Linked DNA regions of Homo sapiens. The protein of the gene in region 2 interacts with the protein of the main gene of each other region in a pairwise test. Each region holds a gene or a part of one and is shown on either strand. Other genes may lie near its edges. The genes, in order: CTDSPL2, PDIK1L and C1orf174.

The links.
Region 1: the proteins of PDIK1L (region 2) and CTDSPL2 interact in binary tests that used the Homo sapiens proteins (3 or more experiments, as listed by UniProt).
Region 3: the proteins of PDIK1L (region 2) and C1orf174 interact in binary tests that used the Homo sapiens proteins (3 or more experiments, as listed by UniProt).

What each region holds. Positions count from the first base shown.
Region 1 is NC_000015.10:44,425,631-44,429,379, reverse strand, and holds the start of CTDSPL2 (CTD small phosphatase-like protein 2), read right to left. Parts: upstream 1,752-3,749; 5' UTR 1,608-1,751; exon of another isoform or gene 1,487-1,607; intron 1-1,486. UniProt on the Homo sapiens protein: Probable phosphatase.
Region 2 is NC_000001.11:26,114,681-26,118,429, forward strand, and holds part of PDIK1L (serine/threonine-protein kinase PDIK1L), read left to right. Parts: intron 1-3,749.
Region 3 is NC_000001.11:3,893,116-3,896,864, forward strand, and holds part of C1orf174 (UPF0688 protein C1orf174), read right to left. Parts: exon of another isoform or gene 2,180-3,749; intron 1-2,179.

The DNA.
Region 1 (3,749 bases), on a different chromosome or scaffold from region 2:
CAATGATTTAAGATCCCTTTAAGTTGCATATTTGGCTCCATTTTTTAAATAAACTGACTCGGCAAGTAGTTAACGTGCCTGTACCTCCACTATTCTATTCGCCTTAGGAAAGTATGAAGCTCAACTTAATCCTAAAAAACTCCTTCACATAAGAGCTACCTTTTGCCTTGACTTTCTTTATGACCTTGGGCAAAGTCTACCAAATGAGGATTATAATAATGTTTGTGTGTTCCTGTTTATTATTGAAAATTAACCATAACATCGTGCAAACAATAGTGAAATTCTCTAAACTGGACCTATCCAGAACTGAAAACCTGAGTTATAAATATCAACTGATATTCAATGTGAACAGTTTTTAAAATTTTAATTTGATTAGTGAAAACAAAAAAACCTACAAAGATCCCAAATTCAACATGATTAATAAATTCCGAAAACACCAACAGCCTCCTTATTACTTCTCTTTATGAACAATTGGTCTGCAATGTAATTTAAAAAAAAGGAAAGAAAAAGTAAAGAAATATAGTAAAACTAGCTTTAACACGCCATTTCCCTTTTCTAAGAATAAAAAATGGACCAGGAACGAAAATTTAAAACTGGGCGAAGAATGGGGAGACAAAGCAATCTACAATTTGAAAATTACACAGATAAATCCATCATTTCAAGTCACTAATTTGTATACCCACTGAAGAAATTCATCTTGGTACTGCGTTACCAGCATTAGGAAGATAAATCCCTGCCTCGGAGGAACATCTACTGAGTACGTTTCATTTCAGGATCTCAGGTAAGTTTACGAGCTCTTAGATCTCTTTAGGTTTCCCTAAGGTACGCTGAAGTGTTTAACATCATTCACACATCCAGCCACCACTAGGGTGAGAAGTAAATAAACAAGATTTACTTATGCAATTATTTACCACAGAACTCTGGTCAAGAATGCAAAAGTAAACACCCATACAGACATTTAAAATCCAAAGAAAGCAGAGAATATTAAGGATAATAAGGTTCACTCTTTAACTGACCACTGTGGAAACCAGACGCCTTCCACATGGACTGTTCTTTACTACCACTCCCGATTTGAAAAAGTAACAATGTCAACTCGAGATTTTAACAGTACAAAAGATAAACAGAACTTAGTCAAATCCCTTCTTCCAGATTCTGAAAAGGTGTTTATAAGAACTGAGATAAGAGCAACGCCCCCCTAAAAGCACCCTACTCCAAAGAATGAAATGCTGAAAACATGAGGTGGGCCAAAAAGGTTAAAAAAAGCTAAACTTCTAACTTAATTACCCAGAGGTTGGGGACTAGGAACTTGAGATCGGAGTGGGGGTGGGTAGCAAAGTGAAATCTAACCCCAGAAATCACAACGCAGGCCGCAACCTAAGAGGTGAAGCTGGCGGGAAGTGAGCTCCCTTTCTGTTCCCAGGGGAAAGTCCAGACAGGAGCGGCTCCGCACAGTGGACGTACGAGGCGCCAAAGAGTGCATGCCTACCAAGGCGCCAGAGCCGCTGGAGGACCAGGTTTAGAAGGGGAGGAGATCCCGGCAGACGGCCCTGGAAGAGGAGGAGGACTGAGATTGGAAGCAGCGGCGGCGTCTGGACGAAGGGGATTACCTAACTGTGACGACAGAGAAGTGTCCTCAGGCTCCGGCGATGGTCCCGACTGCGCAATGTGTGGTGTCTTTCCCGCTTACCCCGCAGCAGCAACAGAACCAGCTCCTTCAGCCAGTCGCCATTTCCCGCCTACCGACCTGCTGCACCGCACGGACAGGGACCCGGATGGAAAGCGGCCTCTCCGCGCAGGCGCCCTGACTTCCTCCTCCCCCTCCCGCCACAATTCCGCGAGGTGGGAGGGAAGGAATGCGGGCAGCCACAACGGCAACAACAACCAAAAAAACACTTTTACTTCCGTGAAGAGCGTTGAAGTTCCTTACGCCGGAAGAAACTCTCTAGTCTGAATCCTGGAGAAAAACTGAACACAAGGCCTTAGTACTGGGTCGATTAAGAAAGGACAAAACCTATCAGGATGAGCAAGGGCCTGGGGGATATTTGTACATTAGGGGCCTCCGTAGCCGGCTGTGTAGTGGTCGCAGGGGGAGTAGGGAGTAAAGCGTTAGGAGTGGAGAGGCGGGGACCCGAAGGACGGTTTTTCCTCCCGCTCCTAACGGAACTGCTTGGGCAGAGCTGGGAGGGGGAGCGCGCCCTTGCCCCGGAGGCGGGGCTTAGGAACGCGTAGTGCACCCTGGCGGCTAGGGTTTAGTAACTGTGGGCGCGCTGGGTAGGTGGAGCTGAGGGGATAAGGCGGGACTAACGGCTTGGCGCGCTGGAGGAGGTAGTTCGTAGGGAGAGCTGCCTGAGGCCGGGAGAAAGCGAATCTGGCGCCTTTCCTGGGATTTCGGTGGCCCTTGAAGGTTCCCTTTCCAGCTCATTGCCTAGAGGGCGTAGCAGTCGCTTTTGGATCATAAATATTCATGCCCTTCGACTCAACCCTATGTTGGCGGTGATTCTGCAGGTTGAAAACTCGGATCTTTCAGGCCAGTGGGCTCCCACCTGCGACCCTAGGTCAAAGGACGGTCAGCTCCACAGAGTGAAAATGTATCAGTCCAGAGAATCCAGTTCTAGTGGGGTATCGGAAAACCAAGCCTAGTGTTTGGAAGAACATTTTTCACTGAAACTCCAAGCCACTCTCCTTATTCAATCAAGAAATATTTATTGAAAAAATAACTAGGTGCGACGGGTAAAACAGTGAGCCAGGCAGACACGGATACTGCCTTCCCCAAAGGTAATGATTTTTTTTTTTTTTCGAGACGGAGTCTTCACTCTGTCGCCCAGGATGGAGTGCAGTGGCGCGATCTCGGCTCAAACCTCCACCTCCCGGGTTCAAGCGATTCTTCTGCCTCAGCCCCCCGAGAAGCTGGGATTACAGGCGCGCGCCACCACGACCGGCTAATTTTTGTATTTTTAGTAGAGACGGGGTTTCACCACGTTGGTCAGGCTGGTCTCGTACTCCTGACCTCGTGATCCGCCCGCTTCGGCCTCCCAAAGTGCTGGTATTACAGGCGTGAGCCACCGCGCCCGGCCAAAGATCATAATCTATTGAAGAAGACACCCAAGTAAACAGAATTTAAAAACTGATAAAGCGAATACAAGGATGGCATGATAGGCGTTGTAAAACACATGAGAGTGCCGGCGAGGGGGTCTGGGAAGGTTTCGTAAGATAACATCTGAGACAAAAAGGAGGAGTGTGTGTTGCAGGGGAAGAGTGTCTGGGTAAAGGAAACAACAGACGGAAAAGTCCAAAGATGAGACTGTGTTGAGCCATTGGAGAAGTAGTTCTGTGCGCTAAGAAAAGAGGATGGGAGGGCAGGGGGAAGATGGCAAGAGAGGCTGAGAAGTAAGCAGAAATAACATACCGTTGTGAATCTCATTATTTCGAAGTATGGAGCAGGTGGGTTGTCTTCTGAAAACCTTGTATACTACAGATTCTTCTGTCAGAGTTCATTTGCACCCTAAATCTTCCTAGTGCAAAAATGCTCTGAATGCGACATTTATTGGGAGCTGGTGGTATACACAGCACAGAACTATTAATAGTAACAGTCCACACACACAAAAATAGATTCCTGAAAAGTTCAATGGAATCCAACAAATAATTAGTTTATCCAGAGTGTATCATGGAAAGCAGTAAAATACCAACTAAACAGTTACCCCATTATTACTAAAGTTTATTTTATTTATTTATTTATTTTTAGAGACAGG
Region 2 (3,749 bases):
CCTTTAAATGCAGGTGTTTGTAGTTAGAAGTAGATAAGTGTCTGCCAAGAATTGAGTAGATGTTTGCTTTAAAACAAGGTTTTATTTAAACCTGTGAGGCACATACCTAAAAATAACATAAGCCACCTGTTATGCAATGGTACTTGCCAGTCTGCATAGGAATGGGGCAAGATAGGAACTAGAGAGGTGCTTGAGACTACAGTCTAATAACTTCATTTCTTTGAAATCAATAATTTTGGACTTGAGGACAGAAGAAAAGGAAAAATTCCACAACCAGTAGCAACACCCCTAGGTAATTGGGCATCTCTTTTATAAATCACTGGTTTGAATGTAAGCCTCTGCTGTTTTAGAGGGATATCTGGTTTCTTCACCACGCAGTTCCAGTTAATTTTCATGAAGTACATGATTTAACACCTGAATGTTATTAACAGTGCTAACAGCTAACATTTGAATTTGCATGCAGTTCGATGCTCTGTGCTGAGTGCTTTAAAAGCAGTTGCTCAAAACAATCCTGTGAGGAAAGGACTATTATTATCTTCATTACAAATGAAGAAACTGAGGCTTATAGTATAGATAATGAATTCATCCAAAATCACATACATAGTAAGTGGTACAATTGGGAGCTGGAGCTGAGAATGACAGCTGAAGCTTATGCTTTCTTAACTCCCAGATTACTCTTCTGTAAACCTGGGAAAATGGAAAAGCTTTTCTGTTTTTCTTTTGTTGGCTTCTGCCAGAAATTAAAATCTCTAGTAGCTCTATACTCAAAGAATAGAAAATATATTAAGACATAGCTTGTTAAAGGCTAGGGCAGAATTTCTTAAAGCTAGTCATTCTTGGGCCAGGCACAGTGGCTCACGCCTGTAATCCCAGCACTTTGGGAGGCCAGGACGGGCAGATCACGAGGTCAGGAGATCAAGACCATCCTGGCTAACACGGTGAAACCCCGTCTCTACTAAAAATACAAAAAAATTAGCTGGGCGTAGTGGTGGACGCCTGTAGTCCCAGCTACTGGGGAGGCTGAGGCAGGAGAATGGCGTGAACCGGGGAGGCGGAGCTTGCCGTGAGCCGAGATCGCGCCACTGCACTCCAGCCTGGGCAACTGAGCGAGACTCCGTCAAAAAAAAAAAAACAAAAAGAAACTAGTCATTCTTGGAAAAGAAAACAACTTTCTTTGAGTGTGTCTAAATTCAGAATTTACCATCAGACTTTTACCATTTAAAAGTCTGCTTTTGGGCTGGGCATGGTGGCTCATCACGCCTGTAATCCCAGCACTTTGGGAGGCCGAGGCAGGCGGATCACCTGAGGTCAGGAGTTTGAGACCAGCCTGGCCAACATGGCAAAACCCTGTCTCTACTAAAAAACTACAAAAATTAGCCTGGCATGATAACGTGCAACTGTAGTCCTAACTACTCAGAAGCCTGAGGCCGGAGAATCTCTTGAATCCAGGAGGCAGAGGTTGCAGTGAACCAAGATCGCACCACTGCACTCCAGCCTGGGGGACAGAGCAAGACTCCATCTCAAAAAAAAAAAAAAACTCTGCTTTTGGTCAGGCGTGGTGGCTTACGCCTCTAATCCCAACAATTTAGGAGGGTGAAGCAGGAGGATCACTTCAACCCAGGAGTTCAAGACCAGCCTGGGTAACATAGCAAAACCCCATCTGTACAAAAAAAAAGTGCAAAAATTAGCCAGGCATGGTGGCATGTGCCTTATAGTCCCAGCTACTTGGGAGGCTGAGGTGGGAGGATCACTTGAACCCAGGAGGCAGAGGTTGCAGTGAACTGACATCATGCCACTGCACTGCAGCCTGGGTGACAGCGAGATTCTGTCCCCCAAAACAAAAAAGAAAACAAAACCTCTGTTTTTAAAACAAGAAAAGTTTTGGACTAGGAACAACAAAGAAAACAAATACACGAATGTATGTATTAAGAAACTTGCAAGTTTCCTTGTACGATGAGCAGTATTAGTCTTGAGAACTTAATTTATATTAATTTATATTGCAGTTTAGCACTCTGTGCCCTGAAGTTTTTTGTTTTTTGTTTTTTGTTTTTGAGAAGAAGTTTTTGCTCTTGTCGCCCAGGCTGGAGCGCAGTGGTGCAATCTCGGCTTACTGCCACCTCCGCCTCCCGGGTTCAAGCAGTTCTCCTGCCTCAGCCTCCCGAGTAGCTGGGATTACAGGCAACTGCCACCACGCCCGGCTAATTTTTGTGTATTTAGTAGAGATGAGATTTCACCATGTGGACCAGGCTGGTCTTGAACTTCTGACCTCAGGTGATCCACCCACCTCGGCCTCCCAAAGTGTTGGGATTACAGGCGTGAGCCACTGCGCCCAACCTTTTTTTTTTTTTTTTTTTTTTTTTTTCTTTTTTGAGACAGAGTCTTGCTCTGTCGCTCAGGCTGGAGTGCAGTGGTGCGATCTCGGCTCACTGCAACCTCCGCCTCCCAGGTTCAAGTGATTCTCCTGGCTCAACCTCCTGAGTAGTTGGGACTACAGGTGCCCGTCACCATGCCTGGCTAATTTTTGTATGTTTAGTACAGATGGAGTTTCACCATGTTGGCTAGGCTGGTCTCGAACTCCAGACCTCAAGTGATCCATCTGCTGCAGCCTCCCAAAGTGCTGGGATTACAGGCGTGAGCCACCTCGCCCAGCCAATGCCCTGAAGTTTTCCGTTTTATGACAGTAAAAATAACTAGCCTCTGTGCATTTTATTGTTTGCTTTTCTTAAAGTGCTTATTATGTAAGTTGAATTGATAGAAAATATTGGAAACATTCTTACTATGTTCTCTCTGAAAAGTGAATAGAGGCCAGGCATGATGGTTCACACCTATAATCCTAGCCGAGGCAGGCAGATTGGCTGAGCTCAGGAGTCTGAAACCAGCCTCGGCAACACGGTGAAACTAAAATACAAAAAATTAGCCAGGTGTGGCAGCGTGTGCCTGTAGTCCCAGCTACCCAGGAGACTGAGGCAGGAGAATTGCTTGAACCCGGGAGGCAGAGATTGCAGTGAGCCAAGATCATGTCACTGCACTCCAGCCTGGGTGACAGAACGAGACTCCATCTCCAAAACAAAAACAAAAACAAAAAGTGGATAGAAAGCCAAACATGGTGGCTCACACCTGTAATCCCGGCACTTCGGGAGGCTGAGGCAGGCAGATCACTTGAGGCCAGGAGTTCCAAGACCAGCCTGGGCAACATGGCAAAACCCCATCTCTACGAAAAATACAAAAAGTTAGCTGGGTGTGGTGGCACACACCAGTGGTCCCATCTCCTTGGAAGGCTGAGGTGGGAGGATCACTTGAGCCTTGGAGGCGGAAGTTACAGTGAGCCGAGATTGGGCCACTGCACTCCAGCCTGGGCAAGAGCCAGACCCTGTCTCAAAAAAAAAAAAAAAGTGGATAGAACCTTGCTGAACTTTACATTGAGTTTTAGAGACTAAGAGGCATGATCTATTTTGAACTAGAAAAGCAAAGATATTTAAACAAAAGATTTATTAGCTGAGCATGGTGGCACGCACCTTTAGTCCCAGCTACTCAGGAAGCCGAGGCAGGAGGATTGCTAGAGTCCAGGAGTTCAAGACTGCAGTGAGCCATGATCGCACCACTGCACTCTAGCCTTTATCACAGAGTGGGACCCTGTCTCAAAAATAAACAAATAAACAAACATATTATTTAGTGCTGAGTCCAGATCCAGCAATTGTTATAGTAGCTAGGCATTAGCTCATAAAGTTTTAAGATGTAAAGGCCTACCA
Region 3 (3,749 bases), about 22 Mb from region 2:
ATCTTTGTGGAGACAGCTGTGGCCCGAATGTGTAAATCCAAATGAAACTGTGCCTGGATTTAGGATACAGGATCTACTATTTCCACGATTTTGGAGGCTTGGGACGATCTGTCCCCCTTATCTTGTATATTTCTAGTAGCCACCATTTGTCCTTTAGTGGAAATTAAGTCAACTTCAAAGTGTTTAGAATAAGCAGCACATGCCCTTCCTTAGAAGGCTCTCCAACTTTCATACGTTGTCAAAGTTTTTAAAAAAAGGTAACATGAGGAAACCAAAGTTTCTCTTCCTCAAATTAGACTCCTATTCTATTAGCTGAATGCAGCTAGCGACTGTCTCACAAATTTTAATATTAACAAACTGGTCCACCTCTCTTTTATCCTGAATGCAAAGCAAACTCCTCTAATAACAAGAAAGAAATTAATTAAAGACATAACATTTAAAATAACTATTTAGGAATAATTTTCGGCATTCAGAAAGTTGCAAAAAATAGTACAAAGAAACTGGTGTGATAGCTCACACCTGTAATCCCAGCTACTTGGGAAGCTGAGGTAGGAGGATCGCTCGAGCCCAGGAGTTCAAGACCAGCCTGGGCAATACAGCGAAAGCCCATCTTTAAAAAATTTTTTTAAAAATTAGCCAGGTGTGGTGGTGTGCACCTGTAGTCCCAGCTATGTGGGAGGCTGAGGTGAGAGGATCACTTGATCCCAGGAGTCTGAGGCTGTAGTGAGCTATGACTGCACCACTGCACTCCACCTGGGTGACAGAGTGAGACAGTGTCTCTGAAAAAATAATAATAATAAAATAGTACAGGGAGTTGCCATGTAGCCTTCACTCAGCTTCCACTAATGTTAAACAACTACAGGACATTGTCAACATTAAGAAATTAGTGACATTACGGTACTCTTCACTAAACTATAGATTTTATTTGTATTTTATCGGTTTCTCCATGAACCGTTTTTCTGTTCCAGAATCCAGTCCACAATACCACACTGCACTTAGAAAACTCGAAAGGAATGAGTGTGAGTAGTAGAAGCAACAAACAGGAGCAATGCAGGTTGACATGGCCGGGAAAGGCCCAAGAGCTGCTGCCAACAGGCCCTAGAACTGGAACCCAGAAGGGGACGGATGAAGAGTGCCCTGCCCAACAGCAGATAAGAGAAATAAAAAAAGGAAAAAAACAAAAAAATAAAACACAGAAATAATCTGTCTCGGCTGGGCGCGGTGGCTCACGGCTGTAATCCCAGCACTTTGGGAGGCTGAGGCAGGTGGATCACAAGGTCAGGAGATCGAGACCATCCCGGCTAACACAGTGAAACCCCGTCTCTACTAAAAATACAAAAAATTAGCCGGGCGTGGTGGTGGGCGCCTGTAGTCCCAGCTACTTGGGAGGCTGAGGCAGGAGAATGGCGTGAACCCAGGAGGCGGAGCTTGCAGTGAGCCGAGATTGCGCCACCGCACTCCAGCCTGGGTGACAGAGCAAGACTCCGTCTCAAAAAAAAAAAAAAAAAGAAATAATCTGTCTCAGCCATGCACCCCGTAGCCCAAGACAGCTCCAGAAACCCTGTGGGGTGGCAGCTCCAAGGTCCTGTGATACTGTGGCAGTCAGAGTGTGTGTCTGAAACAGGAGGGAGAAGAGCAGGCAGCAGCCCACCGGAGGCCAGGACGCCCGCCTGCTGTACACAGGACACGCCAGTTGCCCACAGGCTGGGTGAAGTGCCTGCTACCACAGCACACCGGGGGCTGCGCCTCCGTCCTCTCACAAGGGCAGGGCTTTGCTGAGAGCCCCGGCAGACGTCATGGTCACAGTTACACCAAGGGGACTGAGGCAACAGAGGTTACAGAACTTGCTAAGAGTTGCCATAAACATCTCTCATCAAAATCCTCCCACTGGGTCTTAAACAAGCCCATCTCCCTAAAACGCCATCACGTGCCTCGTAGGGAAAAGACATCTCTGACCTAGAAAGCCACTGCCCCACCTCTCCTCCCTGCTGTGAGCCCTCCTCCGGGCGCTTTGCTGCTCTGTGCTGGAGTATGCTGTGTGGGGAGCCCAGCTCGGTGCCTGAACAGCTTTAAAGGAGTGGCACACCCATTTCAGATGAGGACAACTTGGGTAAGGAGCTTATGAGGTTATACGAGTGATGCCTGGCTTCCAAATCTCTATTCCATCACCACAGCTCACCCTAGATATGACCCCCAACAACTGCCTGAGGTGGGGATTGAACTGAAGAAGCTGCCACCCGCTCTGTGTTCTACGCCTGCACGTCTTTTCCCGCAGCAGGTGCTTCTCAAGGCTTCTGTCAGCATCTTGGCAGCAGTGGTTCTGAACTTTTCGCGTGCAACAGGTTCATCAGGTGGACCTTTTGGCCCCTTCTGCAGAGAAAAGCCAGATGATCTGCTGGGCTGGAAGCGCTGGCTGTTAACAGACACCTGAGGATCTGGTGGGCCTGGAAGCGCTGGCTGTTAACAGACACCTGAGCAGGCCATTTGCTGTCCTCTCCGGATTGACAGGAGTCAAAACATGAGATCGGCTTAGCTTCAGTTTCGTCATGGATTAACCACCTCCAAGGTGTCAACTCCAAAATGTCAAGAATTGGTCACAGTCTCACTTGCAGATTCCTGCTCTGCAGCTGGGCAGCTTGGACTGCTCCCACAGTCCAAAAAAGGAAAGACTTTCTCATCATTGAGATTCTCCTCATTCCAGTAGATTGTTTAATAACTGGTATGTCAGAAGCACAAACATGGTTTCTCCAAAAGGGCTGGCCGAGACTGACTTCAACATGATGGCTCGAGGAGCTTCACTGACCTTCTCAGAGAGTAATGAGCAGTCCCAAAACAGCCATTTAGAGAGCCTTTGGAAATGGTCCTATGGGCACCCAGCAAATGAAGAAACACTTGCTCCAGAACACCTACATACATTTGGTAAGGACACGGAGAGTCTGTGGCACTTGAGCTCCATCCTGCTGCAGCCAAGAACACAGGGCCACCTCCCCAGCTCCCAGGCAGCGGGGTGTCTTCCCAGGAGAGGCAGGATAGCAGTGCTTCCCTTTCTGCTCTCATCCCACCTGTGACTGAGACCAGGTCCTGAGTGAGTAGGATTGAGAAGAGGGGCCCTCCTTTCTGCTCAGACCCTATTTGTAGAATGAAGGCTTCACCTTGGCTCCATTCTACCAGTACGGTTTAAGCCTCTGCAAGAGGCTCCGCCCAGTGAACGGAGAAGACTGGGGCCCCATCAACCCCGTCCTAGATATGAGGTGGTTCCAGGCTGGGGAAGACACATTTGGAGGATCTCAGGCTGCTGCTAGCTCCCCCAGCCCCTATTCAGAGAGGAGCCCATTACTGTCCTCAGCTGCAGGCCCTGGCTCAGAGGCTCTGCCTGGGATGAGAGGCAGGCAACTAAACAGACAGCTCTTACACCTGCCCAAAGGCACCAAATTCCCTGCCATGGAATGTGGAGAAGTTCCGGCCTAAGGGAGCTGTTCAAGTACCGTGGATGCTGTGACGAAGGGGGTGGAGGCAGTGGAGAATCAAGCAATAGGCCAAATTGTAGGCCAACCAGTTCGCAGAAGAGAACCAGAGACTAACACGGCTGGGAGGAGGCCTCTTGGACACAGAACAAACTAACCAAACACTGACCTTAGAAAGTATCCCTTCGAAGAAGCCACAATTTGATTGGATTAGTTTGTAGAGCAACTTATGCCCAGGCTGTTGCTGAGAACAGCACAATAACCTGGCATTAGCGAAGTTCAACA